2 linked regions of the Homo sapiens genome follow. The protein of the gene in region 1 purifies or fractionates together with the protein of each later gene. This does not show direct contact. Each region holds a gene or a part of one and is shown on either strand. Other genes may lie near its edges.

Region 1 (4,068 bases):
TTATAACAGAGAAGGCTGCTGTTTTCCTTTGCTCTACTGCTGAAGCTACATTCTTGGGGTTGTGAGGAATCCACAAGTCCTAGAAAACCAAAGGTCAGAGTGGCATTTGTCCCCCCTCTGCCTCAAAAGGGCTGCTGAGAAACACGCTCATCTGCCAGTGAATACTTCTCCCCTGCAACCTGCTTTGATGAATTCAAGAGAATTGGTGGTAGCAGCAAGGAGCCATAGTGGGTTTTGTTGTTGTTATTTTCTTTCCAGTAGCACTTTGATGAATAAAAAATAAAATCCTTTGTTGTCTGAGTGCTTTATGTTGCAGTTTCTGGCTTTGCCTTTTACCATCGTTCTAGTCAAATCTATGGGTTTTTTTCTGACTGATTGAGCTGGGCTCTTTCACTGATTCCTTCTGGAATGTATATATGTATTACTACATCACTGCAAGATGTCAAAATGGAAAAGGACACGTACTTTCCTTTTCTGAGACCAGCCTGAAAAGCTGCAGTTGGGTGGAAGCAGAGCCCAACCGTTTCTTCCAGGCAAGGTGTACCAAAGGAGCAGAATTCTGGGGTGAGATCACTCAGAGGTCACTTGGCTTCTCAGAGGTCCCAGTGTGGCCTCTGTGGGTAGGTGCTTCTGTGGTAGCTGGGGTTCAGGCTGAGTCATTCCCAGCCCCAGCTGCCTGCTGCCCTTGACTGCCTATATAGCCCAGAGTGAGCAGAAATGGAAAACAGGCTTCTTCACTCAAACCTGATTAGTCTCAGGGACCCTCTCACCTCCTTAAAAAGGCAGGTGGAGCCTCGTGTCTGGAAAGGGAACATGGGAAATTTAGCTTCTTGGGCTTAGCTGCTTCGTGCCTTCCTAGAGACCTGGGAGAACTGGTTCAGGGAGCTCCAGAGCGTGTGGAAAGGGGAGAATTGGGCTGAGGCAGATAACCAGAGGTGCTGGTTGAAGGAAGCTAGAGGTGTGGCTCAGCAGGGTCCCAAGTCATTGTTTCTTAAATAGGCTCTGATGGGAATCTGGCTTTCTGGGCAGGAGAAAGGAAGGAAGGAAGGAGGGGAACCAGCTCTGGATTTGAGTCTGCTCTGGAGTTTAGAAATTGGCACATGATCCACAGGCCTCACTGTGGGACAGCCAAATCAACTTCTGGCTGCAGGGAGGGACTCTGGAGTAGGGAAGTCATCTAGGAAAGAGGCCTGTAGCATCTGGCCTGGGAGAGAGGGTAGACACATGCCCGCAGGAGTTTCCTCCTAGGCTTTACATTCTCAGGAGAGAGTTCAAGCAAATCTGTACTTGTATTTGTTGTTATTATTGTTATTCAGAGATAGCAAATTGAGGATCGGATGGTTTGGTTATTGAAGGTCAATTTTAAGTTTCTGTGATGGCGGTGAGGTATGTGAGTGTGCATGCAAGAGGGGACATACAGCTATGAATGGTGTTTTCTGAATGACCGTTCCAGCCCTAAGTCTAAACATATGACAAGAGGCCACACCCAGGCAGAAACAAGACCAGTGACTGTGGCTCCTTGCCTGGTTTTGCCTGATTTAGCCATCAGATTCTTGGCTGTTATAAGCAGAGTACATCCCATCTATCGAGAACAATACCTGAAGGAGCATTTTAAGGTTTATTGAATTGGCCGGGCGCAGTGGCTCACGCCTGCAATCCCAGCACTTTGGGAGGCCGAGGCGGTGGATAACCAGGTCGGGAGTTCAAGAACAGCCTGGCCAAGATGTTGAAATCCCGTCCCTACTAAAAATACAAAAATTAGCCGGGCATGGTGGTGGCCACCTGTAATCCCAGCTACTCGGGAGGCTGAGGCAGAAAATTGCTTGAACCCAGGAGGTGGAGGTTGCAGTGAGCTGAGATTGTGCCACTGCACTCTATCCTGGGTGACAGAGCAAGACTCCGTCTCAAAAAAAAAAAAGATGTATTGAATTAACTACATGCAAACTGTGGAGTGAGAACCACATATATTTCACCACATAAACATAATTATGTACAAGGTATAAATTATAGTTCCCCCCACTTTTTTTTTTTTTTTGAGACAGGGTCTCTGTCACCGAGGCTGGAGTACAGTGGCTTAATCTTGGCTCACTGCAAACTCCGCCTCCCAGGCTCAAGCGATCCTCCTGCCTCAGCCTCCTGAGTAGCTGGGACTACATTCACGCGCCACCATACCCAGCTAATTTTTTGTATTTTTTGTAGAGAAGGGGTTTCGCCATGTTGCCTAGACTGGTCTCAAACTCCTGAGCTCAAGCGATCTATTCACCTTGGCCTCCCAAAGTGCTGGGATTACAGGTGTAAGCCACCACGCCCGACCTAGTTCCCATATTAATTTCCCATTTTATCCTTATGAAGGAATTGGTGAAGCCCTTGGCCACGCACCATGCACGGTTTAGACCAGCATTTCCTATAGTATTCTGTTAGGAATATTGATCCTTTGGGATGCTTCATGAGGGAAAAAGTCTCCGTAGAAAAATTTCTTTGGGAAAGACTATATGCTCTATCCCATCACAATGCCCACTGACGTTTTAAAGACTCTGAGATATCCTGCAGTAAAGGAACCTTTTCAACTTTGTTTAATTCAGTGTTTCCCAAGCTTATTTAACTATAGAACCTTTTTTCATGTTACATCTGTTAACATCTTACAGAACCAATGTGTTTCATGGGAAATACTCTTTGGAAAACTTTAGCTTAGAAATTAGTATCTGTGCTGATCCAGTCTAGATTTATAGTCTTCCTAGTTCTTTTAAATGTCTTTTATAACCCACACCATTTTGCCCTATGCTAGTTAGTGTCTAATGGGATGTTGCTGATTTGTTTCAGGGTCTGAACTTGCTATTAGTAGGAAGCTCTTGGTGAACTTTGGTTAGGTGCACAGGCAAATACCAAGTGCCTTGTTTTTCTCATAATATTTCTAAGGGAGTTTTATTTCCCTTATGTCCCTCTACCAAATGCTGGTTTGATCCTTATTTTTTTTGGACAACTTTATTGAGATATAATTTATATATTGTATACACTAGCCATTTAGTACTTTACTGTTTTTTGAGACACAGTTTCACTCTGTCTCCTACAGCCTTGACCTTCCCCAGCTCAGGTGATCCTCCCACCTCAGCCTCCCAAGTAACTAGGACTACAGGTGTGCACCACCATGCCCAGCTAATTTTTGTTTTTTTCTGGTAGAGATGGGGTTTCGCCATGTTGCCCAGGTTGGTCTCAAATTCCTGGGCTCAAGAGATCCACCTGCCATGTCCTCCCAAAGTGCTAAGATTACAGGTGTGAGCCACTGCACCCAGCTAGTACTTTACTTTTAAACCAGTGTGGCTATCCCATGGCTGAGGTTTTTTTTTTTTTTCCGATAGTTTTTGGGGAACAGGTGGTTTTTGGTTATGTGGATAAGTTCTTTGGTAGTAATTTCTGAGATTTTGGTGCACCTGTCACCCAAACAGTGTACAATGTACCCAACATGTAGTCTTTTATCCCTCATCCTTCTCCCACCCTTCCCCTGTGAGTCCCCAGAGTCCATTATATCATTCTTATGCCTTTGTGTCCTCATAGCTTAGCTCCCACCATGGCCTAGTTCTATTTCTCATTTTTACCTTGGGCTGTGCTCTATGCTTTTATGTTCTGCCAAGCAGTAGAGAAGATAAAGATAATCCAAATCTTTTATCAGGAAGAATCCCATCTCAATTGAGATTTAAGGTGAAAAGTGGATTCCCCGATTAGGGGATGTTTCAGTACTTCCTCTGCAGTATCAATAAATGTTCTCACTGTTCACAACAGCTCAAGAAACATTCCTGCATAATTATTTTATACCCTCCTACTCCACAGGCTACATAAAGCATGGATGATAAACAGGCATTACCCTTCATGCCAATGCCCCTTGATCAGTAGTTGCTGCCTGGAGCATTGTGTTAAGATGGATGCTAAGGTGGACTCCTGGTTCCATATGAAAGACTGACATGGTTTGGTTGATTTTCCATGTCTGCTATGGTCTTCAGCAGGGGGAACAACAGTTCTAGTATTCTGGTTGCCATCCCAGCGGCCCTGAATCATCATAGTTATCTTGGGCAA
Region 2 (4,032 bases), on another chromosome or scaffold:
ACCAAAAATGTCTCCATGTTGCCAAATGTTCCCTAGGTGACAAGACCACCCCGAGTAGGAACCAGTGATCTATAGTCATATCTGTGGCCGGGCGCGGTGGCTCTTGCCTGTAATCCCAGCACTTTGGGAGGCGGAGGTGGGTGGATCACTTGAGGTCAGGAGTTCGAGACCAGCCTGGCCAACATGGTGAAACCCTGTCTCTACTACAAAATAACAAAAATTAGCCGGGCGTGGTGATGCGTGCTTGTAATCCCAGCTACTTGGGAGGCTGAGGCAGGAGAATTGCTTGAACTCGGGAGGCAGAGGTTGCAGTGAGCCCAGATCATACCACTGCACTCCAGCCTGGGCAACAGAGTAAGACTCTGTCTCCAAAAAAAAAAAAAAAAAAAAAAAAGTAATATCTGCTGGCTGTGTTCTTTCCTCAAGTTCATACTTTTCACTCATAAGTATTAGCTATACCAGGGTCAAGCTTGGCAGCTGTGCAGACAATCAGTTTTTGGTATTTGCCCATTTAAAATACAAGGTTTTCGAGGGCAGTTCTGTGACCCTTTCACAGTTTATATTTATTTTTCCTCTCTGGGCATCAGTTTCCTCCGCTGTAAAAAGAGGCCTGAGGAGTAGGATTTAATGAGCTTCTAAGTACTGTGTGCAAGTCTAAAGCGCGAGGATTCGACGTGGATGTAGACCAACTGATATTCTGAGCCAAGGAGTGGGGGCAATGTCTATTCCTGTTACACTGGGGGTCTGTCCAAGAGCTACTCCCCAATCACACCCGCCCCTAAAACTGTTTCTAACTGCTGAACACTGCCTCCTTGTCTTTACCACATCCAGCCTGCTTACTTCTTCCCGTGTCTCCCCCCACACAACTCACGCACCCACTCACCCTGGGACCATTTGAAACAGCAGCTCTGTCCTGGGATGACACACCACCCCATGGCCATGTGGAGTCTTACTGTGTTGCTGAGGCTGGTCTCAGGCTGGTCTCAAAGTTCTGGGATCAAGTGATCTCCTGCTTCAACCTTCCCAGTGGCTGCGATTATAGGCGTGAGCCGCTGCGCCCAGCTGGGAGGACTCTTTAAACTAGCTCTGTCCAGTAGAAATATGACCTGCAGGCCAGGCGCGGTGGCTCACGCCTGTAATGCCAGCACTTTGGGAGGCCGAGGCGGGCGAATCACGAGGTCAAGAGATCGAGACCATCCTGGCCAACATGGTGAAACCCCGTCTCTACTAAAAATACAAAAATTAGCCGGGTGTGGTGGCGCGCACCTATAGTCCCAGGTACTTGGGAGGCTGAGGCAGGAGACTCGCATGAACCTGGGAGGCAGACGATGCAGTGAGCTGAGATCACACCACTGCACTCCAACCTGGTGACAGTGAGATTCCGTCTCAAAAAAAAAGAAATGTAACCTACAAATGGAGCCAGGCGTGGCCTTTTCAATTTTCTAGCAGCCCTATTAAAATAAACAAGTGAAATTAATTTTAATTGCATATTTTATTTAACCCAGTGTATCCAGCACATTATCAGTTTGATGTGTGATAATCAAGGCTGGGTGCGGTGGCTCACACCTGTAATCCCAGCACTTTGGGAGGCCGAGGTGGGTGAATCCCTGAGGCCAGGAGTTTGAGACCAGCCTGGCCAACGTGGCGAAACCCCGTCTCTACTAAAAATACAAAAATTAGCCCGGCGTGGTGGTGTGAGCCTGTAATCCCAGCTACTCCGGAGGCTAAGGCAGGAGAATCACTTGAACCTGGGAGGCAGAGGTTGCAGTGAGCCAAGATTATGCCACTGCACTCTAGCCTGAGCAATAGAGAGAGACTCTATCGCTAAAAAAAAAAAAAAAAAAAAAAAAAAAGCATTAAATTAGATAGTGTATATTTTTTGTCATACTAAATTGTAGTCCGGTGCATGTTTTACATTTACATGTCAATTCAGACTAGCCACAAGTGGCTAACGATTTCAGTATTGGACAGTGAGGGTCTAAACAAATGTCTATTCCCAGAACCCTTCTTCCTGCCCCCCACCCCCATGTCCCCACCCTGCTCTTCTTTCCTCCCTCTGGTGATCCTGCATAGCCACCTGGCTCCTCTGTGCCTCTTGTCTTCCACTTCCTCTTGGCTGTGGCCTCTCTTGCATGTAGAATCCTTGTTGAGCTCTGGGGCTGCTTCCTAGGAAAAGGCTGTGCTTCCCCTGTACTCCCTGCCCCATCCTACCCCTCCTCTCCTCCCTTCTTTCTCTTCTTTGTTCCTGCTTGTTAGGAGCCAAGAGCTGCCCCTGACCAAGGCCGCAGGCTGACAGGGGCAAGCGAGAGGTTTTCCGAGGAGGGGAAGACAGCACTCCCGGGAGGGAAGCAAGACGTCTGAGAACTCAGCCTTCAGATGCCTTTCTAAGACCTTAGCTTTGCTAGTTCCTCAAAGAGCTGACATTTATTGAGAGCTGAGCCACAATTCTCTTCCCCTTCTTCTCTTCTGAACTTTCTGTGGATTCCTCTAGTTGGTTTTTTTGAGATGGAGTCTCACTTTGTCACCCAGGCTGGAGTGCCGTGGCGTGATCTCGGCTCACCGCAACCTCCGCCTCCCAGATTCAACCGATTCTCCTGCCTCAGCCTCCTGAGTAGCTGGGATTACAGGTGCATGCCACCATACCCGGCTAATTTTTTGTATTTTTAGTAGAGACGGGGTTTCATCATGTTGTTTGGCTAGGCTGGTCTCGAACTCCTGACCTCAGGTGATCCACCCACCTTGGCCTCCCAAAGTGCTGGGATTATAGGCTTGAGCCACCAGTGCCTGGCCTTATTTCTTCTATTTATAGCACAGAGAATGCTGTTCTCAGCTGAGTCTGACCCCAGTGGAGGGCAGGCCCAGGCAGTTTGCTGCAACTCACCTGCAGCAGTGCCTCAACTGTGAAGTTAGGGAGTGGATGCTGCCCACTGCATTCCTCCTCCAGGACATCCCGGGAGGCCTGCGCCCCTCCCCCTGCCTGTGTGTCTGCCCCTGCCCATGTGTTCTCTTTTGCTTCCAGGGGCGGGAGCAGGATGTGAGTAGAATCCTCCAAGCCCTACACGAGTGCCTTGCTGCCCTTCCCCGACCCCAGCTCCGGAGCGTCGTGGGCATCGGGGTGTCGGGCCAGATGCATGGAGTCGTGTTTTGGAAAACAGGCCAAGGTATGCTGGGCTCGGGGATGCTCTCAGGCTGGTAGCAGTCACTTCCAGAACTAGAGCAGTGCTGTGCGGGGCTTTCTGTGAAGGGTCGGGTTATCCTGCAGTGGGAATAGGGTCTTGTTTCTTGGAGTGGACGAATACGTGCTGCCTCCTGCGTGGGTGAGCATTCTGTACCAATGTTAGGTGAACAAAGGAACTGCCCACTCCCACATCATCAGCACGTTATCCACGAACAGGCAGAGGGAAGAGAGTGTTTTCTCGGATTCTCCTGAAGGATTCAGCAGAGTGCATTTTCCATAGCTTTCTCTTTACCATGTCAGTATCTCAGAACATTAGTGCAGACAACCGAGAGACTGGCTATAGCTGCAGGAGATGCCAGGACATGGAGGGCATGCTTTTGAATTGGGGCACATTTGTCGTTGTTTACATATTTGTGATTTTGAAAATTCCAGGGCATATCTTTTTTTTTTTTTTTTTTTAAGGTGGAGTTTCACTCTTGTTACCCAGGCTGGAGTGCAGTGGCGCAAACTCAGCTCACTGCAACCTCTGCCTCCCGAGTTCAAGTGGTCTTCCTGCCTCAGCCTCCAGAGTAGCTGGGACTACAGGTGCCTGCCACCACGCCCAGCTAATTTTTGTATTTTTAGTAGAGACGGGGTTTCACCATGTTGGCCAGGCTGGTCTCGAACTCCTGACCTCAAATGATCCACCGGCAGCCTCCCAAAGTGCTGGGATTACAGGTGTGAGCCACCATGCCCGGCCGGCATATCCTTTTTATGGGTTCAGTTGCTAAGCATTTCTAGTTGGTTGTCTTATGAAGATCTGCCACAGTGCGGAGGTGGGTAACCTGTTCTATTTGGCCTTGAGGAGGAGAACC

Evidence for each region. The genes of interacting proteins can lie anywhere in the genome.
Region 2: the proteins of FAM219A (region 1) and SHPK purify together in Homo sapiens (affinity purification with mass spectrometry; 2 studies listed by BioGRID and IntAct, with this or other methods). This does not show direct contact.

The regions. Positions count from the first base shown.
Region 1 is NC_000009.12:34,448,276-34,452,343, reverse strand, and holds part of FAM219A (protein FAM219A), read left to right. Parts: intron 1-4,068.
Region 2 is NC_000017.11:3,629,334-3,633,365, reverse strand, and holds part of SHPK (sedoheptulokinase), read left to right. Parts: intron 1-3,019; coding exon 3,020-3,161; intron 3,162-4,032. UniProt on the Homo sapiens protein: Acts as a modulator of macrophage activation through control of glucose metabolism.